4 linked regions of the Homo sapiens genome follow. The protein of the gene in region 1 interacts with the protein of each later gene in a pairwise test. Each region holds a gene or a part of one and is shown in the gene's direction. Other genes may lie near its edges. The genes, in order: EVI2B, FAM3C, FUNDC2 and NSG1.

Evidence for each region.
Region 2: the proteins of EVI2B (region 1) and FAM3C interact in binary tests that used the Homo sapiens proteins (3 or more experiments, as listed by UniProt).
Region 3: the proteins of EVI2B (region 1) and FUNDC2 interact in binary tests that used the Homo sapiens proteins (3 or more experiments, as listed by UniProt).
Region 4: the proteins of EVI2B (region 1) and NSG1 interact in binary tests that used the Homo sapiens proteins (3 or more experiments, as listed by UniProt).

Annotation. Positions count from the first base shown.
Region 1 is NC_000017.11:31,309,918-31,318,395, reverse strand, and holds the start of EVI2B (protein EVI2B precursor), read left to right. Parts: upstream 1-4,341; 5' UTR 4,342-4,417; intron 4,418-8,478. Other genes in the region: protein EVI2A, read left to right, coding at 1-93. UniProt on the Homo sapiens protein: Required for granulocyte differentiation and functionality of hematopoietic progenitor cells through the control of cell cycle progression and survival of hematopoietic progenitor cells.
Region 2 is NC_000007.14:121,364,606-121,372,742, reverse strand, and holds part of FAM3C (protein FAM3C precursor), read left to right. Parts: intron 1-603; coding exon 604-633; intron 634-1,319; coding exon 1,320-1,443; intron 1,444-8,137. UniProt on the Homo sapiens protein: May be involved in retinal laminar formation. Promotes epithelial to mesenchymal transition.
Region 3 is NC_000023.11:155,043,499-155,051,635, forward strand, and holds part of FUNDC2 (FUN14 domain-containing protein 2), read left to right. Parts: intron 1-3,010; coding exon 3,011-3,086; intron 3,087-8,137. UniProt on the Homo sapiens protein: Binds directly and specifically 1,2-Diacyl-sn-glycero-3-phospho-(1'-myo-inositol-3',4',5'-bisphosphate) (PIP3) leading to the recruitment of PIP3 to mitochondria and may play a role in the regulation of the platelet activation via AKT/GSK3B/cGMP signaling pathways.
Region 4 is NC_000004.12:4,403,411-4,411,547, forward strand, and holds part of NSG1 (neuronal vesicle trafficking-associated protein 1), read left to right. Parts: intron 1-6,162; coding exon 6,163-6,273; intron 6,274-8,137.

The DNA of each region.
Region 1 (8,478 bases):
CTAGTGATGCAATCTACTGGAGTGCTCACAGCTACAAGGGAAAGAAAAGATGAAGAAGGAACTGAAAAACTTACTAACAAACAGATAGGTTAGTGAAGAAAAATGCAAAGTAGCAATGAGAAGGCTTATGGAGTAAAAATGAAGTCAGTTGGTATTTAATCCCAAAGTGTTGTTCTGATTATCTAAAATTTGACATGGTAGACCTTGCAATTTAGAATCAAGCAGGTGAGACAGGGAGAAGTATGCCTGCTTAATTATTTAAACTGTGTACTTTTGTTTTGACACTGAATATTTTAAAAAGCAAATAATAAAATAACTAAGCATTTGAGGAAAATTTTAAGGATAAATTGAGGAAACTGATTAATAGAGATAGCAAGGGATAATTAAATAAATATTCCCTATGTAGCAACAGTGGTTAGATGATCTTTGTCTGAATGTAATTAAACTTTGAATAGTTTTAGTGTGTCCTTAAAGCCAAGTATATGCTTTAACATCAAATGGAAGTCAAATTCCTAATGCATAGATAGAGAGAGCTAAACTGTGTAATTTAATGGTATCTTCCTTGCTGGATGTGGCAGAATCCACACCAGCTTATCAACCAACACAGCTAATTTTAGAATAGATCCTTTATCTTTCCATATGGCACACGTAAGAAAGTGTTTTTCTACTATTAATATTAAATTAAAACCTTTACTTTTGTATAATAAATTAAAACTCAGAATAAACCTGTGACCACGTATATTTGCATTCACTTTATTACTTTAGAGAACACATTGTAAAGATCAATAAGAAATAGAGCACAACTAAAATAAATAAGATTTATAGCCACACCAATAGGCTAAGTGTAAACGCAAAGTATGTTTCACTGTTTATGATTAATAATATTCATCTTTTCTATAAATACTACTTACTGGAACATTAACAACAAGTACCAAAGGTTGATTAATTTTTGGACTTCAAGGATGCCAAGTAGCCTAATGATTTATTAGGGGTGTGTGTGTGTGTGTGTGTGTGTGTGTGTGTGTGTTCAAATCTGGAAAACTGCATACTTCAGGTTATAATTTAACCTTTAAAGAAACTGGCTTCAAGTAAAATAATGACTTACATTTAAGTTGAGAACCCCCCCATCTTCAATTAAATATATTACAAAAATTGGTTTGAGAGACTTTCCAAATATCTACTGAAATTAACACAGGGCTAAGATCAGGCCACATTTCAAAAATCTCATCCCTTACTGGGCATTTATTTCGGGCAATATAGTAACCATTTTAAAAATATTTTTTATATGTTTTTTCCCAAGTATGACTACAATCTTACTCTCCCTTCTAAGCTAGTGATTCTTACCCTGGCTGCATGTCAGAATCACCTGAAGAGTTTTTAAAAAACACCAATGCCTAATTCCCATGTCTTCCTTCTGATGCAACTGGAATGGGGTGAACTCTAAGCATTGGTAATTTTTACGTAACTCTCAAGGTGATAACTGCTCTTGGTCATCAAATTCAAACGTCTAGCTATTATTAAAATGAGAGGAAAAAAATAAAGCATCATTTTTATTATCAATTTATTAGCAATTTGTAAAAAACAAATCTATTCTCTAAACGAGAAATCATAACAATATTATTCCAGATAAAGTTAAGTGTTAACAAAGTAAAAAGGAAAGCATGAGAATATTCATGCCAGTCATGGTGACTGAAATCAGGTTATCTTTTGAGGGGAAAAATAACCCAGATTAGAAATGAAACTGGGCAGACTTCCCATTCTGTGCAAAAATTGAAAATTTGAGATTGTGCACCAGTACATCCAGGAGTAACACAAAGCACTCCTTGAATCAAGGGTCATAAATAAACACGTGTCAGAGAAAATTAAAAGAAATTAATATCATCATAAAAATAGGAAATTACTTTCATATTCAACATACTGGTCAAACATTTTCTCACCAGAGAGCTTCTACCACAAGGATATTTAAAAGAATATTTAAAATTCACCACTCACTATCTTGGCTATTAAACATATACTCTCAGAATGGTACTATCCAATGATAGTTACTGAACAAACAGAAGTGTTTCCTTTCCAAATGACAGGTATTTTAAAATGGTAGGTAAGATATCTTTGAGTTCAAAATTTAAAAGTCATTTAGTTTTGAACAAAAACACATTCCCTACCCCTGGGTATTACAGTTCACCAGCTTAATTCAGGGATTTAAAAATAGTGAATCAGGTTAGGCACAGTGGCTTACACCTATAATCCTGGGAGGATCACCTGAGGCCAGGAGTTTGAGGCCAGCCTGCACAACAAAGTAAGAGCCTCATCTTTACAATAAATAAATAAGCCAGCCAGCGAGCATAGTAGCATGTGCCTGTAGTCCTAGCTACTCGAGAGGCTGAGGCAGGAGGATTGCTTGAGGTCAGGAGTTCAAGACCAGCCTGCGCAACACAGCAATACCCTGTCCGTAAAAACAACAATACTTCCAAAAACCAGTGAATCAAAAGCTTTATAGCATTTGATTATATTATGCTTTATAGTAGGAGCCCATAAAAAAAAACTATTCTTTTTGCACCAAGCTATAAGTACCCTGAAGTTAAGAACAAGGTCATAATAACCTGTGTTTCCCGCAGTGACCAGGAAAAAGCAGTGCATGGGTTAACACATTCCGTACCTACTATAATATGCATCATCCAAGGCACTTTACATTTATTTAATTCCACAATAAGCTTATAAATTAGGAATTATGATCTCCATTTTTCAAGAGAGGAAAGGTGACTTACTCAAAGAAATTTTTATTCAGATGGACTCACTCCTTTCAATACACTTTGTTTAGTTAACTTAAAAATTTTTTGTATTTTAAATTTTTGTGGGTACATAGTAGGTGTATATATTTAAAGGGTAATGAGATGTTTTGATACAGTCACGCAACGTGAAATAATCACATCATGGAGAATGGGGTATCCATCCCTTCAAGCACTTATCCTTTGTGTTACAAAGGATCCAATTACACTTTTAGTTATTTTAAAATGTATAATTATGGTATTAATGACAGTCACTCTGTTGTGCTATCAAATAGGTCTTATTCATTCTTTCTATTGTTTTTTGTACCTATTAACTGGTAACACCATCTCCCCAACCCCTCATTACCCTTTAGTAACAAGTTAACTTTAGTTAACTTCTTATTTAAAAAATGATCCCCAATTTATTTTATTTTCCACTGAGAAGTAACTACTTTGTGGGTAATCAAATAAATAGTTGAGAACTTGAACTCAAAAGTCACTAGTAAAATATTTGGTCAAAATAATTTAATTACAAATATACAAATGGCAAACAGGCATACGAAAGGGTACTCAGCACCACTGATGAGAGAAATGCAAATCAAAACTACAATGATACCTCATCTCACCCCAGTTAAAATGGCTTATACTCAAAAGACAGGCAATAACAAGTGCTGGGAAGGGTGTGGAGAAAATGGAACTCTCGTACGCTGTTAGTGGGAATGTAAATCAGTAAAACCACTATGGAGAACAGTTTGGTGGTTCCTCAAAAAACTAAAAATAGAGCTATCATATGATCCAGCAATCCCACTGCTAGGTATATACCCAACAGAAAGGAAAACTGTACAAAGAGACATCTGCACTCCCACTTTTGTTGTAACACTATTCACAACAGCCAAGATTTGGAAGCAACCTAAGTGTCTATAAACAGATGAATGGATAAAGAAAATATGGTACATATACACAATGGAGTATTATTCAGCCATAAAAAAGAATGAGATCCTGTCATTTGCAAAATAATGTAATTATACTTTTACCCTGGACTTTTTATATTATGAGGAAATAACATTACATTTATTGGTTACCTGCAGTTGGTGAGGCATTTATACATGTTATATTATGCTATCTTATTTAATCCTCACAATAACCCAATAAAATATTCCTTTAGAGGAGGAAACGGTGACTCAGAAGTGCAGAGTCTTGCCTAAGGTCATACAAGTAAACAGAACACATCACTCACTTCTTATGAGAAGAAATCTCACTGTAAGTGATAACCCAACTGGCAGCTTTTCTTCTTAGAACATGTAATTTTCTCTTCGGGACTCCATCCTAAATATTTAATTTACATAATCATATTACTAGAGTATCTCAAATATTTATTTACATAATTAAAAGCACTCAAATCATAGGGCTCCAAAATGTATTTCAAAATAAGTTCTGTTAAAGTAATATATTTCTTAGTCACTTTGTGGTTTATTGCACTTCCGGAACCAGCTATTGATAAACTTCCTCTTTTTCTACAGAAACTATTTCAGTTTGCTAGAGGAACATTTTAAATCTGAATTGAACCACCCATTTTCCTTTCTTAGCCAAATCACCAAAATGTCCAGTTAGAACAAGAATTTAGCATTCTGCAAAAGAAGTTAACAGCTGAGGTAAGAAAATTTTCACACAATTTGGTTTGATCTTGCTTTATATAAAATTTATTTTAAAAACTGTCATTAGTGTTTTAAACTTAAACTCTGATAGTCTAAAGATGTCTATAACAGGTTTTTGTGGTTTTGTTGCATAGAATTAAAAAATACTCAGTTCAGCTTGCCTTAGAAAAATATTTTCACCTAGGTTTGTATAAGACCTTTTAAGTTTATTTAATCTCACACACACACACACACACACACACACACACACACATATTTTTTTTTTTTTTTGAGATAGAGTCTTGCTCTGTCTCCCAGGCTGGAGTGCAGTGGCACGATCTCAGCTCACTGCAACCTCCACCTCCTGGGTTCAAGCAATTCTCCTGCTTCAGCCTCTCAAGTAGCTCGGATTACAGGCGCCCACCACCACGCCTGGCTAATTTTTTTGTATTTTTAGTAGAGATGGGGTTTCACTATGTTGCCCAGGCTGGTCTCCTACTCCTGACCTTGGGTGATCCGCTTACCTCCGCCTCCCAAAGTGCTGGGATTACAGGAGTGAGCCACCGCTCCCAGCCACAATCATATTTGTTAACCTTAGTTTTAGAATTAAAAAGAAACTATAGCCATGGCAGATAAAGCTAAGGGTTAGAAATAGAACTAGATTCCACAGGCTATGACTGAATTTATAACCTCCAAAATATTAATTGTTAAAAGTTCTAATGTACTTTTTATAGAATTTTCCTGTACATAATATAATGCATAAATTAAAATTTTTGTATCCCCTTTAGTTTGCATAGTAAGAATGGTCACTTTCACTTAATTTAGAAAGAAAAAGAAATCAGATGTGGTATTTGACTATTATTATTATACATGCTTTATTTTTTACATATAGATTTTATATTTAATAATGATGACATGAAAACATTATGGCTCATTTTAAAAGCTTACTAAGCCAAAAATGTTAGTCAATAATCAAACATGCATGCGTATATTAATATCATCTACGTGTTTATGTCACATTATCTGAGACTTTAGAACATAGTATAAGATAGAAGAAACCTATAGAATAAACAATAGAAAATTGTTAATATGCATAAAAGATGCTTGCTGTGGGTAAAATGGGCAAATAAAAACTGCAAAGAGTATTTTACATAGACTTGTAATTTCAGGGAATAATATGTTCATAGTGGGTGATATCCCATTTCAACACTTAATAAATATTCATGACTTTCTCTTAGAAGGATTTCTTCTAAGTAATTACTGTGGAAGTCAGAAAATAAAGATATTTATCTCTTTTTCAGATTAGGCTTGTCTATATATTTTTCTACTTCTAATATTTAGTTTATTTCATTATGCATAAAGTCATAAAATTATATTAAATTTTTTTCACTGTCATATTTCATAAAATTAAAAAATTTCCCATCGATCCTTATGGTGTGTTTTTGTCATAGAATCCCATACTTTTTTTTTTTTTTTTTGAGATGGAGTCTCCCTCTGTCACCCAGGCTGGTGTGCAGCGGCACCATCTTGGCTCACAGGCTCACTGCAACCTCCGCCTCCCAGGGTCAAGAGATTCTTCTGCCTCAGCCTCCTGAGTAGCTGGGATTACAGGCACCCACCACCACGCCTGGCTAATTTTTTGTATTTTTAGTAGAAACGGGGTTTCACCATGTTGGTCAGGCTGGTCTTCAACTCCTGACCTCAAGTGATTGGCCCACCTCGGCCTCCCAAAGTGCTGGGATTACAGGCAGGAACCACTGCGCCTGGTCCCATACATGTTTTTAAAGGGTTAGTCCCAAATCTAAAGTTTACTAGTAGTGCCTGTGTTTTCCAGCTAATTCCCACATAATTCTACTTAGAAGGAAACTTTAATTCTGATTAAGTTTGAATTGAGAAACATAAATCTGATGCCTTTCAATGTCCAAGCTTTAAAAAAAAAATCACCACAAAATTTTCAGTAAACTTACTAAATATGACACTTTATAGAAACCATTCCAAATTCTTATAATAGTTTTCGTAGAATCAGGACTAAAATGGGTTTTCAGGTATTTCTTTCCTACCCTTTATCTAAGACTACCTACAAGTGTTATTTACGTGTAATTCCCACCAACTCACATCTCCTTCCTTCATAAAGCATTTCTATTTCATAACTTTTCTATGAAAGGCAGTATAGCACATACAGTGAAATGTGATAGAAAGAAACGGTTCTGGCACAAGATTAGCATGATTTTTGTATTAGTGCCACTACTTAGAGCTGTGATACTGCCAAGTTACCCAACATCGTGGTGTCTCAGTTTCCTTATCTGTAGGATGAAAAAACCACCACCTAGCTAATTAAAATAGGATACTGCTTAGCCTTTGGTGGGTGCTCAGTAAATGGTCACTATCATGATACAAGATGGTCATCAAATACTTCCTATTGTAGTTGAAGGTCAATTTCTCTTTCCACTTTTCCTCAAGATGCAGAATGGCTGGTTTTTTCTTTTACGGTTTCAAAACTTCACTAGTTAGAGATAATACTACTGCTAAATTTTAATCTATTATATTTGCATCACAACTTTTATTATATCAAAGTAATTGATACAGCTATCTATACTTGTCTTTTGTCTAGGATATGCTCTCCAAATCTTGATTCTCTTTAAAAGATAATGGCATACTTCCTAACATATCCAACTTAACAGCATCAATTTTAAATGCTGGACCCTTTAAGTACTTATGCATTATATTTATAAGAACATGTCTATGGCCGGGCTCGGTGGCTCATGCCTATAATTCCAGCACTTTGGGAGGCCAAGGTGGGTGGGTCACTTGAGTCCAGGAGTTCAAGGCAAGTCTGGGTGACATGGTGAAACCCCATGTCTACAAAAAATACAAAAATTAGTTGGGCGTGGTGTAGTGCACCTGCAGTTTCTAACTTCTTTAGGGAAGCTGAGGTGTGAGGAGGATCGCTTGAGCCCAGGAGGCAGAGGCTGCAGTGAGCTGAGATTGCACCACTGCACTGCAACCCGGGTGACAGAGTGAGACCCTGTCTCCAAACGGAAAAAAAAAAAAAAAAAGAACATGTCTTATACACGGGGACTCCTGCTTCACTGTAACTGTCTTTAAAATGTTTAAATTTATGTTTTTCTTTTTAAAATATTCTAAATATTCAGCAAAGAAAAAGAACCAAAATCACAGATTTAAACCTCAAAGTGCCAGCCTATAATAATGAGTAAAAACCGGCATATGAGGGCTGACAAATTTGCTTGAGCAGCAGACTAAGGGATTTCTGGAAAACTCTATATAAAACGTACACGGGTACATGGGTTCTTTGGAATAATTGCTAGGTATGCTTCTGGATAGTGTCAGGGAAAAAAAAAGGGAGAGGATGGTAAGGATACTCACAGCAGACAGGAGAGCCTGAAATGAAAGGTAAATGAATTTGAAAGGATGGTTCCTTCTGGTCCTCCATTTTAGAAAGCAAGCTCCTCTTTACTGTCTCCCTGCACTCACAAACACAGGCCAGCCACAACAGAGCAGCATTTTGCCGTTGCTTCTTTCATCTACTTCAATCATCTCCCCCCACCCCCAACTTCATTTTGCCTACTTCAATCATCTACACTGCCTTCTTGCTAATTATATAACCACTGCTTTTTTTTTCACCTGTTTATTAACTTTTCTTCTTTTCTGTATCTTCTCTAGTCAATTGACCTTCCTCTTTTCTGTTCGCTGCTTCCTAGAGTTTTTGTTTTTTCTCTTTTGTGTTATTTTGTATTTCTTTGCATTGCCTTTTATATTATTCTAAATCTCCTTTTTATTCCCCTGCCCAATATTGTTCTTTACCTACAGAAACAATGTTGGTACTTCAGGTACACACCACTTACATATTTTAAAATGTGTATGCTAAATAACCTTCCACACTGGTAGTAACGCTGGCCTCATTACCGCTGGGAAAAAAGTCAGTTTTTTCCACTACCATATTCCCTATTTATTCCTCTTTTAAATCTTTCTTCTCCTTCTCTGGACTACACTGAATTGCCATCATAGAATTCTAATACAGTTTCTAGTACTCTGATGTGGCAGATCCTAGGAGGATAAAA
Region 2 (8,137 bases), on another chromosome or scaffold:
ATGTTAGTGCTTTTAAAAAGCCCTACTATAATTATGATAGATGGTCAGGTTGAGAACTACTACATTCAAATTAAGATTTGACCTCATGGATTCCTTGAACTGATAAATTGTAAATCTTTTAGTAATGATCTTCCTCATCCCCCTCCCTGGCCCTCGCAATCTCCTAACCTCACCACTAAGATAGATTCATGTATATTCTCTGGGGCTTTCTTTGCGTATCTGTACAACACCATACAGCAGCAACAACTTTTAAACACCATCATATTCACCAAATTTATATTTATAAACATTGAAAGGTAAGTTTGTAGAGTAACTTCCTGATTGAAATTTAAATATATAGTAACTAAAATTCAAAACAAAATGGTAAGGGAAAAATAAAATGTTTTATCAGTAGTAAAATACTATCCTCCATAATTATTTAATAGTTTATAATGAATGTACAGTGTGAAGTTACTTTCTCACTTTTTCTTAAGTGATATTCATGTTTTATTGTATACTGAATCATTATTTGAACACTTATTTTTGTGGACCTAAATATATTTTAAAAGTGGATACTTGCCAATAGACTCATTCCTTCTAACAAAAGTAATTTTTTTTTTTCAGCAAGATCAGCATTGGACACAGCTGCACGTTGTAAGTATTTCATCTCAATATTTTATGTATGATTTATTCTGCCTTAGGCATATGAGAGCTTATATTCAAAGTGTCAGTAGTTCAGTATGAGGAAAAACTGCTTTAGAAATTGCTTTTTAAAGTTATGAGGATGCTATTTGATTGGACAGCCCAAATATTTTTGGCAATTATTCATGATGGATATTTTGTGTTTTTTAGCTCCGTTATTATAAGTACAGAAATTGGTGTGAGAAGGAGTTAAGAGTGTACATGGGCAAGGTAGTCAATGGAACATTAGGCCTTTTTTAATTATCCTGGAGGTGACGATTTTTTGTGCATATATGGACTAGAAGTGCAAAGTAACATTCAGAACCCCCCACATCCTAAAATTTAAAAATAAACTCATAGTTAGATAAAATATATTTGCCCTAATGCAGATCATATTACTTGACTCATTTGCATCCATTATTAGTTTGTTTCCTAGGAAGATCTGGTGTCTGTTGTGGGTTTCTTTGTTGCTGTTTTTTTTTAAAAAAATTTTTTGAGGTTCTTTGAAACCCTCAGGGGAACAAATTAGCTTGTATTTTAAGATACGTGTATCTTGATGTTTTTCTTAATGCTCTTTGTGGTTTGAGATTTGAAGTAAAGTGAGGTAAAGTCTGTTAACTTGTTTTCTAAAAAAAGACATCATGTTTTCTCCCCCAAAGCTACAAAGCCTCCCAGATATAAGTGTGGGATCTCAAAAGCTTGCCCTGAGAAGCATTTTGCTTTTAAAATGGCAAGTGGAGCAGCCAACGTGGTGGGACCCAAAATCTGCCTGGAAGATAATGTGTAAGTCTTTGTTGACTTGAGACGATAAGGTGTGCTATTAAATTGCAGCCAATTGAACCTGAGTTTAATGGATATTTTGAAAATGTGTTCGGTATACTTTATTAATGGAAAGTGATTTCCATTTTTGTTATGTAGTTTTTTTCTCATGAATTCAAGGGACCTTAAAGTTCTTAAATTTTATATTAGAGAGTGACTAAGAACGTAACACTTATTCGGCTTTATAGAGATAAGAGATTTCCTCTGAGTAAATTCTCTAGATCTGCACTGTCCCATTTGCTAGCAACAGAACACATGTGGCTATTTAATTTTGATCCTTAAATATTAGGAAGAAAGTTAATTCACTTAAATTAACTAAAAAGTTCAGTTCCTTGGTATCTGTCACCGCAGTTCAGGTGTTCAGTGGCCACATGTGGTTCATGGTCACCAAATGGAACAGCAGAGAGAGCATTTTCATCGTGGCAGAAATCCTATTTGCAACATTGCCCTGGACAATGAATGTGTTCTCTTTATTTTAAATGAAATCCAACGTCTTTCATTTAAAATATTTGAGTGCTACTTGTTGAAGTGTGAAATGATCCAGTGATAACCTCAGTTCCATTGCAGCACAAACTGCTTGCCTCTAAGCTGAATGGTTTCCTATGTTGAGATGCTTTCTAAAGGATGGTTTTTAGGATTTTTGATATCCTACCTCAGTGTCAACTGTTGCTCGCAAGTTCCTGCTGCTGAAATTGCAAATCCTACTTTTAGTTGGTTGCTTTTAATATGCTATTGCCTAGAAAACTAGACATGGGGGCTTATTTAAATTTAATATAAAATAATAAATTTGTCACGAATTATATAGAATAAAGAGATAATTTTATAGCAAAGAGGAGACCTAGGCAGCTTTTCCTAGCTGTTTATGTGCCTCTTCTTTTTAATATTGAAGCTCTTAAATTTTTATCCTAGCCTCTTTTGCAGGCAGTTAGCTGTAAGAAGTTTATTGAGCTTCATGGGACAACACTTTTCTTGTAAAATTAAGGGCTTGAGCTAGATGATCATTAAGGTCTGTACTGATTTCCTTTATTTTCCCGTATTCTAATGATGATTTATTGTTAATCCATTTGTCTTCTGATTTCTCATTAGAATAGTCCTGTTTTACTGATGCATAATAAGGCACTTGCATTTTAGAAGTTTGTAGGTTTTTGAAAACATTCTCATTTCCACTCTTTATCTTGTTTGGTTAAATAGACCCCAAATTTGATTCTAAATCACAGGAACAAAGTTCTTTTAGAATACCTAACCCATGGATGATTTTGGACATCTATTCTGCCCCCTTGATGCATGTGAATTTTAGTTCAGAGAAGAAGAGATCAGACTGTTTACTAGCAGGTTTTTTATTCACAGATTAAAACCGTAAACAACAAAACACACTCAGAAAAAAAGCTCAACTGTTTACCCACATCCTGACCCTTATTCACTTCTCTCCAGATCTTCCTGATCTTGGGGCCTTAGAGTATACTCTTCTGTCTAGGATGGTCTTTCCTCACTCTTCACTTGGCTGTCTTCCTTCTTGACCTTTGGTTCTCAGAGTACACATCACTGTCTTAGAAGCTGTTCTCTATCCCTCAGCCTAATGTTGAACAGCTAAAGATCTAAGGTCAGAAAGCGAACAGTGCATAGACAGTGGAGCTTGGTAAAATACATACTGGGCTTAGAGCCAGAGAATTTGCTTCTAGCATGGTGGGCGTGTCATGTAGCATTTGTGTTTCAGTTTCTTTAACCATTAAATGAGGCAGGCCACCTATCCATCCTTATTTCAGGAACCATTCTGCCATTACCATGAGAGATTAAATACTTGGTGGGATTTTATACCCAAGCCTCAGGTTAAAGTCCAAAGAAAGAGTCTTAAGTTTTCTGAGAGTCATTTATTCACCTGTTCAGCAAGTATTTTTGAGCATAATCCCTCCTGTCATGGAACTTACAGTTTAGTAGGGGTGACAGATGCTTAAAAAAAATACGTACTTATAAATTGTGACACCAGGCTGGGCGTGGTGGCTCATGCCTGTAATCCCAGCACTTTGGGAGGTCGAAGCGGGTGGATCACCTGAGGTCAGGAGTCTGAGACCAGCCTGGCCAACATGGTGAAACCCCGTCTTTACTAAAATACAAAAGTTAGCCGGGCGTGGTGGCACATGGGCCTGTAATCCTAGCTACTTGGGAGGCTGAGGCACGAGAATCTCTTGAACCCAGGAGATGGAGGTTGCAGTGGGCCAAGATCGCACCACTGCACTGCAGCCTGGGTGGGCGGCAGAGCGAGACTTTGTCTCAAAAAAAAAAAAAAAAAAAAACAACAACAACAACAAAAAATGAACAAACAAATTGTGATACCAGCCCTGCAGGGCAGCAGGGTGTGATGAGTACTGGCGAGAGTGGATGGAAAGAGGTGTCTAACTTTTAGATTGAGGGTTATGGAACAGTTTCTAAGACAGTGATGTGTATTCTGAGATCTGAGGGATAGAAAGGAAGACCATCCTTGGTCTTCGAGCAGGAGGAAGAAGCCTGCTCGAAGGCCCTAAGATTGGATAGCTCTGGAGAGAAGTGAATTAGGGCCAGGCTGCATAGGAACTTGTAGGCCACGCAGGTAAAGGGTTGAGACTTTTTTCTGAGTGTATTGAGAACTTGTGGAAGGATTTCAAATTCTGGCATGTCGTGATTTTATTTATATTGAAAAAAGTTATCTGGTTGCTGTGTAAAATAATTAAGGAAGTGGAATAGAGAGGACAATTGGAAGGCCATTGCCAGTTACTGCCACAGCACTTTCATACTGCCTCCCTGTTGGTAACAGACTTTATTGCTTATACATTCACTAAAATCTATAAGTAGATAATAAAAATAACACAAGCAGAGAATTTAGTCTTTTCACAGCACCTGCTCTGAGTACATGTAACTCACTTTGGAGACTACTAATCTTGGATCAGTGTGTCTCAATGGGGGCAGTTTTGCTTTCCAGGGAACATTGTAATTTTGGGTTGTCATAGCTTTGGAGGTACTCCTTGTAGAGGCCAGAGATGCTGTTAAACATCTTTCAGTGCATAGGTCAGCTCATCCACAAGAATTATCAGGCTCTTAAAATGAGAGGCTGGGTTTGAGAAACTCTGATACAGACAGGTGATAATTACAATTAGGATGGTGGTCATAAGTAGTTGAAGTCAAAATACATTATGCTGATAAAGATGTGTTTTAAATGTCTCATTAGTTAGAAAATCGCAGGTATGAACCTCAGGTCTCAGGAAAAACAGTAATTGCAGCTTTTTTTTTTCCTTTACTTTTTCTTTTTTCTTTTCTTTTTTACCTAGAGACAGGGTCTCATTCTGTTGCCCAGGCTGGAGTACAGTGACGCAATTTTAGGTCACTGCAACTTTGAATGCCTGGACTCAAGCGATCTTCCCACCTCCACCTCCTGAGTAGCTGGGACTACAGGCGCATACCACCACATGCAGCTAATTTTTCTATTTTTGTGGAAATGGGGTCCCATTGTGTTGCCCAAGGTGGTCTTGAAGTCTTGGGTTCAAGCAGTCTTCCCACCTCAGCCTCCCAAAGTGCTGGGATTACAGGTTTTTTCTTTCTCGTTAGAGCACCCATAGAACTAACTTATGTTCCAATTATAATTTTCATCTAAGGCATATATTCATTTGATTTCAATTTGTATGAATTTGATATTAGGAATAATTCATTACTTTTGATTTTAATGGTAATGTTTGCTGCAAGAATATGAGATTATTTTGAGGGATTTTTTTTTAACAAGGGATCAATGTTTTTGGCTATGAGGGCAAAGAGGTAAAATCAAGGTTATTATGTATGTACTTACATAATCATTTAAAATGTAACCATTTAAAAATGTAAAAACTATTCTAAGCTCATGAGTAGTAAAACAAATCAAAAAACCAGTTGGCAGGATTTGGCTCGTGAGCTATAGTTTGCCAAGCCCTGCTTTAAACTAACCATCTTAAGAGATAATAACTAATAACTAGGACATGAAGTAGCTATTTGAAACAAATCTATATTTGGATATATTGAGTATTTCTACAGATGATATAATCATTTCCTTTAGAATTTTGCCTAGAGATGTGGGAAGGGGTACCTTATATTCATGAAGGATAAAAGAAAATATTTCAACTTGTGTTAGTAAGGGTTACTAACCTTTATACATTTTAAATCTCAGTGGATTTTTTATTTGTTAGAGATTTTCTGTTTGAATTTCAGTTTTTAAAAATTGATAAGCTGCTGCCCTCTTGTGGGAAGCCTATGTCATTGTGCTTCTTTGTTACCTTTATTTCTTTGCTTTATGATAGATTTCAGTCTGTAAAATGCCACATCATACTCCTTGATGATCTTTACTTGGAAAAGTCACTCTGGCACTTAACCCGTTAATCACAGCAGTTACTTCTTAATGATGGAGTTTACTTATTGAATGTATTTCTGAAAGAAACAGAACAGTACATTTTGAAACTTCCTTCTCTTTGATGCAGCTGAGCCAATGGTTAAGTAGTAAAGCATAGAACCTTTTAAATGTATATGCTCCAAGCTAGTACTTTTAAACAGCTTTGAGATATAATTCACATGCCGTCCATTTTGCTCATTTATATTATACAGTCAGTGGTTTATTATATTCACAGATATATGCAATCTCTGCCACAGTCAATTTTAGAAAATTTTTATACCTCAAAAAGAAACCCTGTACCCCTTAGCTAATATCCTTCTATGCCTTTCTTGTCCTGCCCCACTTCCCCACCCCCAAACCCTAAGTTAACCATTAGTTTCCTTTCTGTCTTTATAGATTTGCCTATTTTGGACAGTTCATATAAGTGGTATATAATATTTGGTCTTTTGTGATTGGCTTCTTACCATAATGTTTTCAGGCTTCCTCCATGTTATATCATGTATCAGAACTTCATTCCTTTTATGTCTGAACGATATTCCATTGTATGGATATACCACATTTTGTTTACTCATTCATTAGTTGGTAGACATTTGAGTTGTTTCCACTTTTTAACTATAATGAGTAACATTTACAGAAACATTTATGTACACATTTTATGTGGACATATGTTTTGATTTCTTTATACTCCCAGGGAGTGGATTTTGTTTTAGGTGGTAACTCTGTTTAATTATTTGAGGAACTGCCAGATAGTTTTCCAAAGTGGCTGCATCTGTTTGCATTTCCGCCAGCAGTGTATGAAGGTTCCAATTTCTCCACATCCTTGCCAACACTTGTTATTATCTGACTTACTGATTATAGCCAGCCTAGTAGATGTGAAGTGAAATCTCATTTGCATTTCCCTGATGATTAGTGGTGTCTAGCATGTTTTTGTGTGCTTATTGGCCATTTGTATATCTTCTGTGGAGAAATGTCTGTTGAAACCCTTTGCCCATTGATAAATTGGGTTGTTTCTTTATAATTGAATTGTAATTTCTCTTTTGATTAATGTTTGCATGATATGTCTCTTTCTACCCTTTTACTTTCCACTGCCTATATAATTATATTTAAAGTGAGTTTCTTGTAGACAGTGTGTAGTTGGTTCCTGTTTTAATTCACTTTGCCAATTTCTGTCTTTATTTGGTATGTTGAAACTATTTTCATTTATTATAATTATTAATATATGAGGGTTTAAGTCTATTTTATTATTTGTTTTCATTTTCTCATTTTCCTGCCTTCCTATGAGTTACATAAACATTTTAAAAAAGTGTTTCTTTTGATTTATTTATAGTGTTTTTGAATGTATCTCCCTATAGCTTCTTTAGTGCTTTCTCTCTTTACACAAAAAGTTTGCAGACTCAAGTTCTAGACTTGAGGTGAGGGAGAAAATATTACACAGATTAAATTGAAAAATATGTCCTATCTATATCTATTATATGGTGGATAGCACCAAAAATGTAGGAAGTAGTCTTCCAATATTTAAAACTTATTATCTGATTCAGTCATCATTGACAGGCAAGTGGAATTTGAACATGAATCTCCATTATTTGTTTTTCTTTATTTTATCTTATTAACATAGATCCAACGTTTGTTAGAACTGAGCTCATTCATCAATTGCAACCATAGTTCAGCTGCAGATGTGAATTGTTTGAAAAATCAACTAAAATACTCTGTGAGAATCGACTGAGATTTATAATAAAGTACATCGTAGATTTTATTTATGAAATTGTGTGCTATACATCTTTTAGTAGTTTATAATAAATTGTGTACCTATGTGTATATATAATTCTGTCTATATAAGGACAAGTGTGTGCACGTGTAGTCACATATGTGCATATTGCCTCTCTCTCCTAAACACAGAGCAGTTGTTAAATAGTTAACAGCACACCACTGGGAGTATTACTATTACCTTGAAGTTTTGAGTTAAAAGAACTCACAATTTTAGTTTAATAATTCTAATTTGAGCAATTGAACAAACTGAACTGATAACCAGCAAATTTGTCACTGGTACCTTCCATTTTACAGTGTCATTGTCTTTATATAGTGGTCTGTGAGCTGCCCATGGAAGTCGATTATTTCAGGTAGTCACCACGTAAGTGACTGTCATTCAATGCAGTGATTTCATGAGTGCAATATTTCTTAGTGTAGACGAACTTTACAGTGATAATCACTAGGAGAATGTTCACAATTAGGTAAAACATTCATGAAAGAGTGCTCCCCCACTCTGTTTGCTTTTAG
Region 3 (8,137 bases), on another chromosome or scaffold:
TATTCTTATAAATGTGCTTGATTCTTGTTCTTGGATGCAGTTACTTAGAAATCACTTGATCTTTTTGGGTCTTGCTTTGTTATTAGGCTTTATTTAAAATGTGTGTTTTGTTTTAAAAAGAGAAAAAGCCAGGTGTTGTAAACAGTGCAACAATTTTTGTAACAGCAAAAATCTGTAACCATTCTAAATATGTCAGTTACTCTGATTATACTTTAGTAAGTCTGAACAGTGGAATGCTCTTAAAATGGACCCTTATCATTTATTTACTGGTCCTACCACCCTTCCAATTTCAGAGTCGCTTCAGAAATATACTGCCTGACATCTAACTTTTGTTTAAAAAAGATTAAAAGTCTTATGAGGTTCTCCATGCATTGTTGTATTTGTAATTCTTTCTCTTACTGAGCTGAAATGTAATAAGGGGAGAACAGTAGACAATGAGGGTAGTGAGGTAATGGGAGACAAGATGTTAAGTGTAAGGCTTTAACTTTCTCTCTTAGTGAGGAGGGAAGCTACTGGAAGGTTATGAGCAGAAGTGTACCTTGATCTTACATTTTAGAGCAGGGGTCAGCAAAGTTTTTCTGTAAAGAGCCCATATGGTAAATATTGTAGGCTTTATGGATCACACAATCTCTGTTGCAACTTGATTTACAAAGAGACATCTGGCAGGATTTGGCTCCCAGGCTGCGGTTTGTCGACCCCTGTTTTAGGACTGTATGAGCTGCTATATTGAGAATAGATTCTAGGGGGTGAAAGTGGAGGTAAGAAGTCCAGATGAGGAGCTGTAACAGTAACCTACATCAGAGATCATGGTATAGACCCAGCAGATAGAAAGTGAATACACAGAGCAAAGAGGTTCTAGGACTGAGCCTCAGAACAACCTAACATTCAGAAGTCAGAAAGAGGAGGACTCAGCAAAATTGTCTGATAAGGAATGGCCAGTGATATATGAGGAAAACCAAGAGAGAATGGTATTCCAGAGCAAAAAGATGTCAAGAAGGAGAGAGTACAATAGCAGAACAACAAATAACCTGATTTAAAAAATGGGGAAAAGACGTGAACAGACATTTCCCCAAAGAAGGCATAGAAATGGCCACCAGAGGTATATGAAAAGATGCTTAGCATCATCAATTATCAGGGAAATGCAAATTAAAAGCACAATGAGATATCAACTGGCACTTGTTAGAATGGCTGTTATCAAAAAGACAAGAGATAATTGTTGATGAGGGTGTGGAGAAAAAGGAACCCTAGTACACTGTTGGCGGGAATGTAGATTGTTACAACCATTATGGAAAACAGTATGGAGGTTCCTAAAGAAATTAAAATTAGAACTACCATGCGACCCAGCAATTCCTCTTCTGAGTATATACCCCAAGGAAATGAAATCACCACCTCATAAAGATATCTGCCCTCTCATGTTCAGTGCAGCATTAATTTATAGTAGCCAAGATATGGAAACATCCTAAGTGTCCATCAATGGATGAATGGATAGAGAAAATGTGTCTACAATGGGATACTATTTAGCCTTAAAAAAGGAGATTGTGCTGTTTGCCATAGCATAGATTTTGGAGGACATTATGCTAAGTGAAGTAAGCCAGACATAGAAAGACAAAATACTGCATGATCTCATATGTGTGGGGAAAAAGTCATATATACAGTTGTATAATATAATAAATATAAAGAAATAAAACTGGTTACCAGGGATAGGATGGGAGGAAATGGGAAGATGTGGGTCAAAGGATACAAAGTAGCAAATATGTAAGAGGAGCAAGTCGAGAGATCCAATGTACAGCATGAGGACTGCAGCTAATGCAATTGTATTGCCTTAGGGATTTCTGTGAATTAAGTGGATTTTAGCTGCTCTTATCACAAAAAAGTAACTATGTGAGATGATAGATATATTAATCTGATTCATTATAGTAACCACTTTACTTGTCTATATGTATCCCATAACATCATGTTGTAAACCTCAAATATACACAATAAAATACCTTTTTTAAAAAAAGGAGAGAGTAATCAACTGTGTCAAAAGCTGCTGTAGGTCAGATGAGATTAAAGCTGAGAAGTGAACACTAGCATTTGGTAAGGTCAAGATCAGTGGTAACCTTGATAGGAATGGTTTCATTGAAGTCATGGGACAAAAGCCTGAATGGTGTAGGTGTGAGAGAATATGGACACAGGACAAAAGAGACGGCCTCAAAGTAGTTTTGCTGTAAAGGAGAGCACAGAAAAGGGAAGGGGGCTGGAGAATTGGAGTCTAGGGAGGATTTTTTCAACAATGGTTAATGATTACAGCTGATAGGTGTTCAGCAATGAAACAACAAAATCTCTGCCTTCATGAAGCTTACATTTTAGTATCGGGTGGGGGCAGGAAGATAGACAGTAATAAAGAAACACATAATTATATTAAACTGGCTACAAGATGTTGCCACTCAGATATCATATGGACATTTTGCATTCAACATATTCAAAATGACATTATCTCCTCCCCTCCCTTCCCCCACCTTTTCCTCTATTCCTCTTCCTTGTTTTTATATTGTAAAAAATGCCACATTCAGGACAGAATCTTGTGCCTTATCCCTTGCAACCATCCTGTCCTCAAACTCAGGAGTGTTTTTTTTTTTCTTCACAAACAGTTCCTCAGGTCTGCTCCCTCCTTGCCATCTCTACCTCGGCCCATTGGCATTCACTTCTCTTCTGGATCGCTACCTCACCGTCTTAACTAGAGTCTCTGCCTTCGTCCTCCCCCTTTAATCTCTTCTCCACAATGTAGCCAGAGTCATCTTTTAAAAATATAACCTGAGAGTTTTAAGGGACTTACTCAAGACCACAAGATTCATAGAGCCAAGATTTGATTTCCTTATGTCATGCTCCTCTTGGGGCTGGCTTTATGTAGGGGGTAGGAAGGAGCTAGGTCATCTTAAGCTAAGTAAGATATGAACATTGCCAGAAATGCATGTTTGTATGTAACTGACAGCTCATCAATTTGTCTGATGTTGGTTTGTTTTTGTAGGTGCACAGGTTTCATATTCCAGAAGGTTGGAAAGTTGGCTGCAACAGCTGTGGGAGGTGGATTTTTTCTCCTTCAGGTCTGTATGTGAAATGTTCTCAGATGTTTGGAAATTCCACCTGCCCATTAAGGAATGTGGTGTGGGGAGTTGTAATACAGTCCTGGCTATGTCACACTAGACTAGCCTTAGCACTTGTTTTCATGTACTATTTTAAATGCTAGTGACCGTTTGAGTCAAATTTTATTCATTATACTAGTAAATGTTATTTGCCAGTCCCATTTTATTTCCTCATGTGGCGACAGAAGTGCAAATTCCTTATCATAGCTCCCTTAAAAGAGTTTTTAAGACCAGCTGAATTATTAAGCGGATGTGATTTCAAAAATACAAGTGTGCTGTGATGATTTAGTGTCATATGCTAATATTATAGCTAGCTTTCACAGAGGGGATGTTGAGCATGTGATGAGAAATGGGAGCTAAGTGACAGTACAGTCAGATGTCGTCTGCTGTCTCCTTGACCCATAGTTTCAGAACCAGTGGTTGCCAGTTCTCTGAGACTGCTTAGGAGAGACTAACAAGCAAGACTTGAAAAAGGGAGCAGTTTCTCCAAAAACAAAAGAAAACTGACATTTGATTGTATTAGGCATACATTTCTTAGCTCTGTGGCATTGGTATTCAAATTTGGCTCCACATTGGAATCACCTAGGAGTTTTTAAAAGAGCCAACGTGTGCCACTCCTGACCCACAGTCTGATTTCATTGGAAAACTTAAAACTCCTGAGGTGATTCTGCTGTGCTGTGGGAGCCATAACTTGCTGAATCATGCCAGAGTCTCTGAATTCACAGCCGTTTGTCTCTTCCCACAGTTGGCAACCCTCACTTTTGCAAGGTAAGTTCTGCATTAGCACCATGATTGGAGTGAGTTTTGCAGATAGGTCAGGTGAAAATCAAATGTATCGAAGAGGGAAGCTGGTAACTGGCTGTAGCTGGGTTGAGTGTGGTATTGCTGCATGACAAATTCCCCCAAACCTAATGGCTTCAAATAATGATCACTTTATTCTCTCTCATGGTTACAGGAGTTTGGGGAGGGTTAAGGTAGGTGCTTGTGGATCAGAGTCTCATGTGGTTACAGGCCAGATGATCAGAGGGTTAGGGTAGGTCTGGACTTGTGGGGCCTCTTTGTGTCTCTGTCTCTGTTTGTCTTCCCTCCTCCTCTCCTTATTTCCCCCCTGTCCATAGTCTCAGTGCTCTTCCATGTGGTCCCTGTGCCAGTATAGGCTTCCTCACACTACCATGACCTCAGGACTCCCAAGCACAGTTCTGCAGAAACATGGTGCAAGTTGCATCTCCTTTGTTGCCCAAGCCTCACTTTTGTTGGCTGCTTCCCTGTGGGCTTGTTACGTGCTGGCTCTGTTGCTAGACAGGTCAGACTCCCTGCAAGGTGGGGCCCCTCCTCACACCTCTCTCTCCTTCCCCTTGACCCTTCAGGTGGAAGTGCAGTAACATCTCTATCCCTGTGGTTTCCCTTATATGCTGCCCCAAACTTCATAAACATTTTAATATTGCTTTGAAATGTCTTAATTTGAGTGTGTCCTCTGTTTCGTTTTGGGGCCCTGACAGAAATAATTGGTATTGAAAATGTCTCCAGAAAGGCACCTCAAAATGAGATTTTGGGGTTGGATAATTCCAATATTCAAGGGGTACAGGGACACTGCTTTGCTGCAGAGGTGAGACATGGAGAATCTGTGGCAGGCACTCATGTTATCTGTCACCAGGGGAGTGAGAGCAGGAGGCAAGCATAATGTTGGGAGATCAGTTATATCACAAGTTATAGTTTGACATAGGGATCCAGTTTCCTTTTTTCCATACTGATAATTGAGCAGAATTTAGTGAATAATTCTTCCCTTTCCCAACATTTGCAGCATTGTCTCTTTCATATATCAGAACCCATGTATGTGTGGCTGTGACTCTGGTTTCTGTGTTCTGTTCCACTGGTCAACTTTCGATCTTTATGACAGTACTAAAGCTTAATATTTGGTAATGCAAATTCCTCCACCTTATTCTTCAGGAGTGTTGCAGCTACTTTTGTGTTTCTGCTCATTCATCTAAATTTTAGATCAGACTTGTCAGTTATTTTCAAAAATCCTGTTGAAATTTTTATCGGAATTGCATTGGAACCATGTAGATATCTCTTATGATATTGAGTATTCTATCTGTGAACACGGGCTTTCTCTCCAATTATTTAGGTCTTCTTTAATGCCTTTGAATAGACTTTTTATTATTTTTCCGTATAGATCTTGTACATCTGTGATTCAGTTTTATTCCTGGATACCTTATAACTTTAGTTGCTCTTGTGGATGATACGATTTTTAAAACTACACATTCTGATTCATGCTAGTGTGTTGAAATACAGTTGATATTTTATGTTGCTCTTTCAGCCAGCCACCTTGTTAAAAAAGTCTTGTCTGGGATTCTTTTGGGTTTTGTCTATAAAATCTTTTTATGCCATCTGTGAACAGTGAAATTTTTCCTTCACGTCTTTATGAATGTAGTTGCTTTTTCTTACCAAGCTGTAGATCATTTCCAGCACTTTTTGCAGCTTTCAGAGCCCAGCAGCAACGCTTGCCAGTTTTCAGTTTATTCGGCTCCCTCTACTTGTTGTGCTGCAATGGAAGTAGGATGTTGAGCTTTGTCAGTAGAGGGCGCTGGAGGGACCTTGCAGCGGGAGAGGCTGCTTTTCCCAGTTCTGGTGTTGCTTTGCCCCTGCAGTGCAGTCCCCCAGTAATGCCAAGGAGAGCAGGAAGTCACCTCGCAATCCTGGCCTGGGCCACCCAGGGGACTTCACCACCACCATTACTACTTTTGCCCCCTTGTGAAAAATCAGTTTGTTGTAGTTGTCCACGTCCGTTTCTGTACTTTTTATTCTGTTCTGTTGGTCTGTGTGTCTATCTCTTCTTCAGTATGACACACTGTCTTGACTACTGTAGCATTATAGTAAATCTTAAATCAGGTAGTGTGATTTCCCCAACTCTGTTCTTTTTCAGATTCATTTTGGTGATTCCAGTTCCTTTGCCTTTCCATATAAATCTTAGAACCGGCTTATTTATGTATCTATAAGAAATCCTACTGGGATTTGTGATTTGGGATTGCAGTAAATCTATGGATAATTTGGAGAGAACTGGGCATCATTTCTGTGTTGAGTATTCCATTCCATGTACATGATGTGTCTCTCCATTTATTTAGGTTGTCTTTGAGTTCTTTCTTCAGCATTTTGTAGTTCTCAGTATACAGATCCTGTATGTTTTATTTGATTTGTACCTAATATTTAATTATTTTTTGCACCCATTGTTGTAAATCATTTAAACATTTTTCATTTCCAGTTCAAATTGCTAGCATATAGAAATTCAGTTGGTTTTGTGTGAATTTGTGTCCTGTGACCCTGCTAAACTCACTTTTTTAGTCTAGGAGTTTTTGTTTTTTGTTGAAGTCTATGAAATTTTCTATGTAGACAAAGATGTCTATGATTGGAGACAGTTTGACCTCTTCCTTGTGAATCAGGATGCCTCCTAATTCTTTTTCTTGCCTTGTTGTGCTGACTCTGAATTCACTTCTGGTACGATATTTAATAGGAGTGGAGACGGCGGACAGCTTTGCCTTGTTCCCTGCATTCGTTCTTTCACCATTCTGTACAGTGTTAGCTGCAGGGTTTTTTATGTAGATGTTCTTTATCAAGTTGAGGAAGTTCCCCTCTATTGCTCTTTCTCTGAGAGTTTTATCATGAATTTGCGTTGAATTTTGTCAGATGTTTCTTGAGTCCTGCCTTGAGGTTAGGCCAGGCGATACTGCAGGAAAAGCAGGAAACACGCCACCAGTTTGGTGGTGCTTTGAATTCTGGTCTTCTCCAATCTGCACGTCGCTGTTTTTATGTAAGAGCCTTCAAATAGCTAGTCCATGTATTCTCTCAGTTTAATAGCAGGATTTTGTGGGATAAACAGGGTGGAGTAAATGAACCAGAGCCTTCTTTTAGATACAAATGTTGATACTCAACTATGTGGTTGCTGTAAGTAATTTGTTCTTTTTAGTACTAAGTAATATTCTATTGTGTAAATATGATACAATTTGTTTATCCATTCATGTGTTGATAGACTTTTGTGTATTTCCAGTTATAGACTCATAAATAAAGGTACTATGGCTTGATTACTTGTGAAGTTGAACTTTTTCCTTTTTGTGGACACTTTCCTCTGAATTGCCCTTACCCATTTTTAAAGTGAACTTTCTTACTGATCTCTATAAGAAGTTCACTTTTTTGAGTATCAATGTTTTGTTTATGATACACATCACAAGTATTTTCTCTAGTCTGTTTGGGTGACTGGTGGTGCCATTAGCTAAAATAGGGCCTAGAGGAAGAGCAACAATGCAGGAGGAGACTCTAGCAAGGTGAAGACTTTTAGTTTCAGATATTTTGAGATTGCCAAAAATTTGGTAGAGAGAAGTGATATTGATAGGGCATTGATTGATTGGCTACAGTCATTCTCTTCATTCCTAGGATGATATTAATCCATCATCAAAATCTACATGCTTGAATCAGATTTACACTGAGTTTTAGTGTTTGTGCCTGCTGTTTTTATCAAGGGAAATAGGTATATGCTGTAGGTGTCTTTGGATGTGGTTCTCTTAATATCCGTTTATATGAACTTGCTCATGAGAAATCTCTGTGGGGCCAGATGCTAGATTTCTTCCTGTTAAGCAACAGTAATAACTGCCTGAATGCTTTGCTCTGTTCACATTGTCAGGAAACTGACACTCATGGGCACATTGTCAGAGTCATTCTCTGGAAACATTTGTATTGGCTGTAAGGTCCATCTCTTCACCCTACATCTTGACCCCCCACCTTGATTTTCATCTTATGTAACTCTTTGTAAAAGGGTTGTAAGAGTATAAATAATTTAAAAGAATTGCCAGTAGTTATTTCTAGTGCCAGGCATATGGCTTCGCATATAGGGGGGATGCTGAGTAGATGTCATCATGATACAAAGAATCAAATGGCAGATGTCTCCAAAAATGGAAAGTCAGAGGGTTTCGAGAGTCTACTTCAGGATTTATCCTGACTAAAAGAAATAACAAATCTGTTTC
Region 4 (8,137 bases), on another chromosome or scaffold:
TGGTCCCGTCCTCCGCCGTCATATCCTGTAGCGCAATGTCTTCAAGCTTCTCTCTGCTCTTTTCTCTGTCTTCAAGTCGCCGCCTCCTCAGCAGGGGCACCTCCCTCTGCTCCCCTGCTAGGAGGACACCTGTGATTACCTTTAGAGCCCACCTAATCATCCAGGATAATCTCCTCTTCTCAAGGTCCTTGACTTGATTGAATCAGCAAAGTCCCTTACCATATACATTTCCGGGAGTAGGACCTGGGTGTCTTTAGGGCCGTTATTCAGCCAACGACAGCCAGTTTGCCTGGGCCCAGTCATGTACATCTGAGCCTCAGTTTCCCCATTTGTAAAACACAGTCAGTAATACTGCCTTGCAGGTGTTGTGTTAGGAGTACGCAGACTTTAAATGCTGACCAGAGTGCAGAAGGCGGCGGACGTCTCCAGAGCTCCTCCTAATGGTAGTGTTTTGGTGTGAGAGTATAAAGTCTGGTGGGGGGTGTAGCTCGAGAGCCCCCAGGAATTCTGCCCAGATGTGGAATCCTTTGTTTATCCCCTTGCTTCCAGCTTAGGCTACATGCGGGAGGCATCTGGAGAGTTTTAAACTTGCTATGCCGCTATCGCTACTTGGAGTGGAGTCCAGATGATGGGGACATTAGAGCCTCCCATGATTCTCATTGGCAGCCACAGTTGAGTCCATTTTGTACCCAGGCTGGAGTCACTGCGAATGGCCGCCACCTCTCTTTTTGCATAGCCAACACCGGCCTCTTAGGATCACCTGGGTCCTGTTGGCCGACTTGGAGGTGCTGCCTTTTCAATGACAAGGCGTTTGTTATGTGTAAAGAAAGGCGTTGAATTGGACGGTCTCCAGCTTCTGCCCAGCATGGAGCCTGCAACATTGTGTGGGAGTGGGGCTCCCATAGGGTAACAATGGCTCACCCAGCTCACCGTGCCCACTGTTTGCCAGCCATGGGGTCTCCTGCACACCCCATCATAGACGCAGGTGCTGGGCCGGCATCCCCCTTTCACAGGAAACCAGGCGTTGGGGCGAATGCCCTTTGCAGGGTCACTGCGTGTGGCCGAGCAGGCCAGGAACCCGGGCTTATCTCACTTTTAGTCCCTGGCATGAATGGCTAGTTCGTCCATCAAGTATTTTCAAATTGGTTGAACGATGGAGTTGCTGGTGGTCGTGGTTCTCCAAGATGCTTCCGATCATGGCATGTTGTTGTAGAGGAAGCTTAAAAGATACTGCAAGGTCCTGGAGGAAACGCCGATGTCTGGCTCAGTAACATCATCCAATGTTCCAGAATTCTTCTAAGTATCTCATGGGGAGGGGGCAGGGACTTAGGAAAGTCTCCAAACTGTGACACTTTTATTTCACTTTAATTAGGAAAAAAGAGATGCTGGGCTCCTTGGTGCCTGCATTCACGATTGGTGTCCCGATAGAGGCTGGGATGTTCCAGAGCCTTCCTGGGGCAGGGGGCCTGGCCAGGGCTTTGAAGGGCAAGGAGAGAGGGCAGGGCAGCCTGGCATGGTGCGGAAGGAACGGGGTAATGGCAGAGAGAACAAGTATGGGGGAGGGGAGCCAGTCCTGACCCCTGTGAAGTCACTCTGCTGTTAGGGGCCCTATAACAAAGTACCACAAACTGGGGGGACTCAGAGCAACAGAAATTTACTCCCCCACTACTGGAGGCCAGAAGTCTGAAATCAAGGCTTCGGCAGAACTGTGCTCCCTTGGAAACCTGCAGGGGAGACTCTGTCCTTGCCCCTCCTAGTTCCTGGAGGTTGCCACCATCCTTGGCTTTGCTGTGTAGACACAGTGCTGTAATCTTCCGTCCTCACGCGGCCCTCTCCCTATATGCGTGTCTGTCTACATCCAAATTTCCCCTCTTTATAAGGACACACCAGTTTGGTTGGATTAGGGCCCACCCTGATGGGCTCATTTGCAAAGATCCTATTTTCAAATCAGGTCCCCTTCACAGATCCTGGGGGCTGGACTTCAGCATCTCTTTTTGAGGGGCCCAGCGTGCTCTCAACTTGTGGTCTCTTGTCCTTCTCCTGAGATGCGTCAGGGTGTAAGGCATGGTTCCCCCACTTTGGCGATGAGATGTGGGGCCCAGAGAGGCCAGGTGACCTGTTCAAGATCACACAGGCAGCAGCTTACAGGATTCAATTCCGAGCCAGTTTCTGGAGAGGCCCGTGGCCCTCTCTCTCCTTAGGCCATGGACCCCATGCTGTGCCCTGCAGTGGCTGAGGAGACCCCAGCTCCAGAGTCTGCACAGGGCAGGGGGAAGAGAGAGCTCAGCCTGTAGGGGAGCTCTTTGCCACACCACGGGCCGCCCGCTGACTCTCCCTGGATGTATTTCTTTGCCCTTCTCCCCTTGACTGTTCCAGGGACTCTCGCATTCTCGTTGCACGGTTCGGCTGGCTCCTCAGCCGTTGGGCCTGGGATCCTGGAGGAAAGGCTTGGCCAGGTTTCGGAGGACACCCCCGAGGAGGTGGTTCCCCCACAGCCCTGCAGGAGAGAATGGGGGTTCTTTTTAAATCTAGACAGGTGGGGTACCAGGAGCCAAACTGATGTGGCTTCCCAACTGGAGAAACAGGTTTAATGATGCCCCATCTCTTCAAGGACTTGAAACCCTCTTCTTTTTTTGAGACGGAGTCTCACTCTGTTGCCCAGGCTGGAGTGCAGTGGCGCGATCTTGGCTCACTGCAACCTCCACCTCCTGGGTTCAAGCGATTCTCCTGCCTCAGCCTCCTGAGTAGCTGGGATTACAGGCACTCACCACCACGCCCGGCTAATTTTTTATATTTTTAGTAGAGACGGGGTCTCACCATGCTGGCCAGGCTGGTCTTGAACTCCTGACCTCATGATCCACCCGCCTCTGCCTCCCAAAGTGTTGGGATTACAGGCGTGAGCCACCACGTCTGCCCCTGAAACCCTCTTCTAACAGGACATCTGCACCTGTGGTGGCTTGGCTCTCTTCTCAGAATAGTGTTTTCAGATGCACAGAATAAAATGCAAAGGGTTACGAAGGAGGCCAGTTAAATGGAACCAAGTCCTTCTGGACCACCCTGAGTGAGGCAGCCCTGCAGTGTAGACTTGGAGAAAGGCAGGTAGCTGGAGCCCGGGCAGGCTGGCCCCGGGTGAACATGCGACGGGGCAGCTGGTTAGAGGGTTGAGAGCCCGCTCTGCTGTCTGCCAGGCGCACACCCCAGGGCCAGTGAGGAGATGAGAGTGAGGATAACAGCAGCGACAGCAGACAGCTCCGTCATGCTCCCCCCCAACCCAGGTGCTGTTCTCAGTGTCCCGTGACTGTCCCTGGAAGGCGTTCCTTTCACTGCTATTCACAGGCTGGAGCCAGGTGCCAGACTCCCGGCCAGTGAGCTAGAGCCGCAGGGTCTGTGCTCCGGCCCCTGTCCAGAGCCTGTCCCAACCCCAGGCACCATCAGGGCTTGCGGCTATCATCGCCAGGCAGCCCTCCCTGGCTGGGCTCCTGCCACTGCCTCTGGCTGCCACGTGCCTCAGACGGCTGCGCCTTCTTTCTCCGGCCAGCTCTGCCTGCTTCATCACAGCTCTGCGCTCTGCTGCCCTGGCCCAGGTGCTGTGCGCTGGCCTGTGCACTGCAGCTGTGATCTGGACTAAACGGCGCCTTTCCCTGTGGGCACTGCGGCCCTGGGGAGCAGCCTGGCTCCATCCTGTCTGTGTCCCTTGTCAGGCACAGGCTCCATATGCACTGTAGGCCATCCCAGTGGACTGGAGTTTCTCTGGCCCTTAGAGAGGGTGATGGCCCTGAGAAGGCAACCTACGGTCGGGGTTGGGGGAGTGGAGGCGGGAGACGTGACTGAGGAACTGGCAGGACCTGGGGACCAGGAGGATGGGCCTGCTCAGAGGGGATGTGAATCTGCCTGCCAGGGGCCTGAGGGGTCCCTCCCTAGGTGAAGGGACACAGAGGGGACAGGTCTCATTGGAGTTGTAGTGGGTCTGAGCTGGGGAGATGGGAGGGCGGGCGGTGGGATGTAGCAGGTAGCCAGGCGGAGTGCGAGAGCAGCCTGGGCTGGGGTCTCAGGGTCTTGGTGCTGCCCTTGTCCTGCCCCGGGCACTGTGCTGAGAGCCCCTGGGACCAATGAATCTGGCAGCACAATGGACAGGAATCTGACTGCAGAGAGGCCACGTCCCTCAGCTCTGAGCCACCCCATTCAGCTGGTCCTGTGGCCAGGGCTCCCTGCAGTCAGGATGCAGGCTCGGGGACAATTGTGAGGCCTGGAGATGAAGACCTCCGGGAAGTGGAGGCAGGGGATGAGCTGCAGTGACTAGTGTGGCTCTCCAGGCATCTGCAGCCTTGCAGAGACGGGGACGTGGTGGAGGTGTCGTCCCATGTCATAGGGAAGGAGTCTGTGGCTCAGAGAGGTTAAGGGGCTTCCAAGGTGGTGAGGCTGGTAAGCTGCGAAGGTGCAGAGCTGCAGGCAGAATCTGCACCCTGGGCCCTGGTGCTGGGGCCTGAGCGGCTTGCAGGGGGTGCATAGGGGCCCCCAAAGAGAAGGAGGGTTAGCCTCAGCATTCACGGCAGGGTGGCCGCCCGTCTCCCAGGTGACCATGCTGCACGGCTGATAGGACACTTTCTCACGTACATCTCCTGCTTCCCCAGGACCAGTGCCTGGGACGCCCTTGGTCTCCTATCACAGATGGGAACTGGGGACTGCATGGTGTTAGGGGACTCCAAGCCTAGAGTTCCTGAAGCGGGCAGGGCTCAGGAGGGCACTCTGCTGGAGGGTCTACCCAGTTGAGCTTCGGGACTGCAGCCTTAGGAAGCAGCAGAGCTCCCCAGTTCTTTAACCTTGTTGGCTGTAGGGTCTGTATGTGGCCAGGGGAGAGTCCCAGCCCCTCGCATCCTCCAGGCTGCTGGGAGGGGCGGTGGGGAGCGAGCAGCTCTGTGCATGTTCATACGATTACGGAGGCCCTGCCACGTGCTGGCACCTGGCATCCTCCCACCCGGCCAGGGAGCCCCATCGCTCTCTCTGCCTCTCTGGGCAGGCGGAGGGCCATCTGCACGCTGTTTTAGCTTTTTATTGATTGATTTATTTTGAGGTAGAGTCTCGCTCTGTCACCCAGGCTGGAGTTCAGTGGCACTATCTCAGCTCACTGCAGCCTCTGCCTCCTGGGTTCAAGCGATTCTCCTGCCTCAGCTTTCCTGAGTAGCTGGGATTACAGGTGCGCACCAACATGCCCGGCTAATTTTTATTTTTAGTAGAGATGGGGTTTCGCCCTGTTGGCCAAGCTGGTGTCGAATTCCTGACCTCAGGTGATCCACCCACCTCGGCATCCCAAAGTGCTGGGATTACAGGTGTGAGTCACCACGCCCAGCCCGTTTTGGCTTTGAGACATACTCTCGTCCCTGCCAGGCTCCCTGGCAGCCGGGTGAGTGCCTTCAAGGTCCAGGTCCAGTGTCATCTAGTGACCCATGCCCCGTGCCCTCCAGCCGGGGCAGGCTGTCCCCCTCCAAGCCAGCTGTCTTGCAGCTGTCGTGAGTTCATCTGTAAACACCAGCTGAACACCTACTGTGTGCTGGGGCTGTCTAGTGCTCAGCATACCATGGTGAAGAAAACCGAATCCCTGTCCCTGAGGACACTTAATTAACCACATGGGAAACCGCCGAGGGCGAAGGCCAATGGGGCTGCAGAGGTTCTGTCTTTCCTGGTCCCACGCAAAAGCAGGCTGGTGTCCATGCGACACTGCGTCCCAGCACTGAGCCCAGGGCTCAGGACACATTTGCTGAGCGGATGCTTGGCTGGTAGCTGATGCACCACCGCCGTGATGGGGCAGTGGGCAGCCCAACCCCACTTCTCACACATGTGTCTTAGTGGCCCGAGAGCTGCCTGGGCAACAGTGGGGCTTCTTCATATCTGTACCCTGAGCTCTCTATGCAGGACCTTGGGTACTAAAAATAACTAATTTAAAATGAATGTCACTTATGAATATGGTGAAAAATTAAAATGTTACCAAAAAATTGCCCAGTGAACAGTGATGCTTCTAACCTCTTGTGCCTAGCTGCCCTTACCAGGTTCTTCCAGAGATAGTCTCTGCACATGCTGTGTGGGGGGGGGCCTTCGTGTGCGGGTGTGTGTGTGTCTGTCCTGCTGCCTTCCGGCCACCCCTGACAGTCCCACCTCTGCCCACAGGTCTCCGTGTTGGTCCTCTTCGCCCTGGCCTTCCTCACCTGCGTCGTCTTCCTGGTTGTCTACAAGGTGTACAAGTATGACCGCGCCTGCCCCGATGGGTTCGTCCTCAAGGTAAAACTCCGTTTTCCCCCAGAGGCCCTGGGACGCCTTTGCACCCCATGTTCTCTCCCTTGAACTCAAGGCTGCTCCTGCCGTCTCCCCCAGCTGGCCCACGGACAGGCCTTAGAGCAGCAGGGGGCCAGTGTCAGGAGTGTCCCTGTGGAAGGCCCACCTGGAGAGCAGGGCAGGTAGGCAGGGGGCACATGAGACCCACAGGAAGGAAACTCCCGGACTTGGCCCCTGGGAGCTGACCTCAGCAGTCCGGGGAAGGGCCCTCCTCGAAAGTGGGCCCAGCCAGGGTCTGCCGTGGGAAATGCCCAGGATGATACCTACCGGATCCCAGCGGATTGCTCTGGGGGAGGGAGGGAGAGAGACGGGACCATGTCCGCCACATGAAAGAGGAGAGGATGTACTGGGGGAAGCCAAGTCCCACAGAGAGGAAGGCCTTGCCCAAGGCCACGCAGGGAAAGGGGAGCAGGGCTGGGGGGCACACCCACCCTCCTGACCTGTGTCCCTCTCCTGCCTGTCCCACCGCAGGAGCCACACTGGTGCTGGGCTCTCTACAGGCATGGAAATGCTCGCTTTGCATATATAATGCTCATTCCCAAAAGCCCACAAGTGACATGCAAGGCAACGGGATTAAAGGGAGGGGAGATAAGGGTGGAAAGAGAAGACGGAGCCAGGGGAGGCCTGGCCACGCATCACTTAGTGACGGGAATACGTCCTGAGAAACGCGTTGTTAGGCGACTCCATCATTGTGCCAGCCTCACAGAGTGTCCTGTACACCCACGCGGCCCAGCCTGCTACACACCCGGGCTGGAGGGTATGGCCGACTGCTCCTAGGCCACAAACCTGGACAGCATGTTGCTATACTGAACAATGTAGGCAGTTGTCACACGATGGTAAGTATTTGTGTATCTAAACATAGAAGAGGTCCAGTAAAAACACGTTATAACGCATGGTCCACCTGAATAGGGCATTTCCATCATGAATGCAGCTTGCAGGACCGGAAGCTGGTCTGGGTGGGTGAGTGAGGGAGTGGGTGGTGAGTGAATGCGAAGGCCGAGGCATGGCTGTGCACTCCTGTAGACGAGTGAGCGCTGGACATGTGGGCTACACTCCATTCATAACATACTCTTTCTTCAGTAATAAATTAACCTGAGCTCACTGTAACCTTTTTACTTCATAAACTTTTTGTGTGTGTGTGATGGAGTCTCACTCTGTTGCCCAGGCTGGAGCGCAATGGTGCGTTCTTGACTCACTGCAACATCTGCCTCCCGGGTTCAAGCGATTCTTCTGCCTCAGTCTCCTGAGTAGCTGGGATTATAGGTGTGCGCCACCACCCGGCTAATTTTTGTATTTTTAGTAGAGACAGGGTTTCACCATGTTGGCTAGGCCGGTCTCGAACTCCTGACCTCAGGTGATCCACCCACCTCGGCCTCCCAAAGTGCTGAGATTACAGGCGTGAGCCACCACACTCAGCCAATAAACTTTTAAAATGTAAGTTTTTGACTCTTTTGTAATAACACTTAGCTTAAAGCTCAAACATCTTGCACAACTGTATATTATTTTTCTACATGTGCTTTTTCTATTAAAAAATTTTTTAATTCTTTTTTTACTTCCAACACATTTTTGTTAAAGCTAAGGACACAGACACACACATTAGCTAGGCCTGCACAGGGTCAGGATCCACAGTATCACCGCCTTCTGCCTCCACACCCTGTCCCACTGGAAGGTCTTCAGGAGCAGTGACAGGCACAGGGCTGTCATCTCTTAGGATAACAATGCCAGGCCAGGTGCAGTGGCTCACGCCTGTAATCCCAGCACTTTGGGAGGCCTAGGTGGGTGGATCACCTGAGGTCAGGAGTTCAAGACC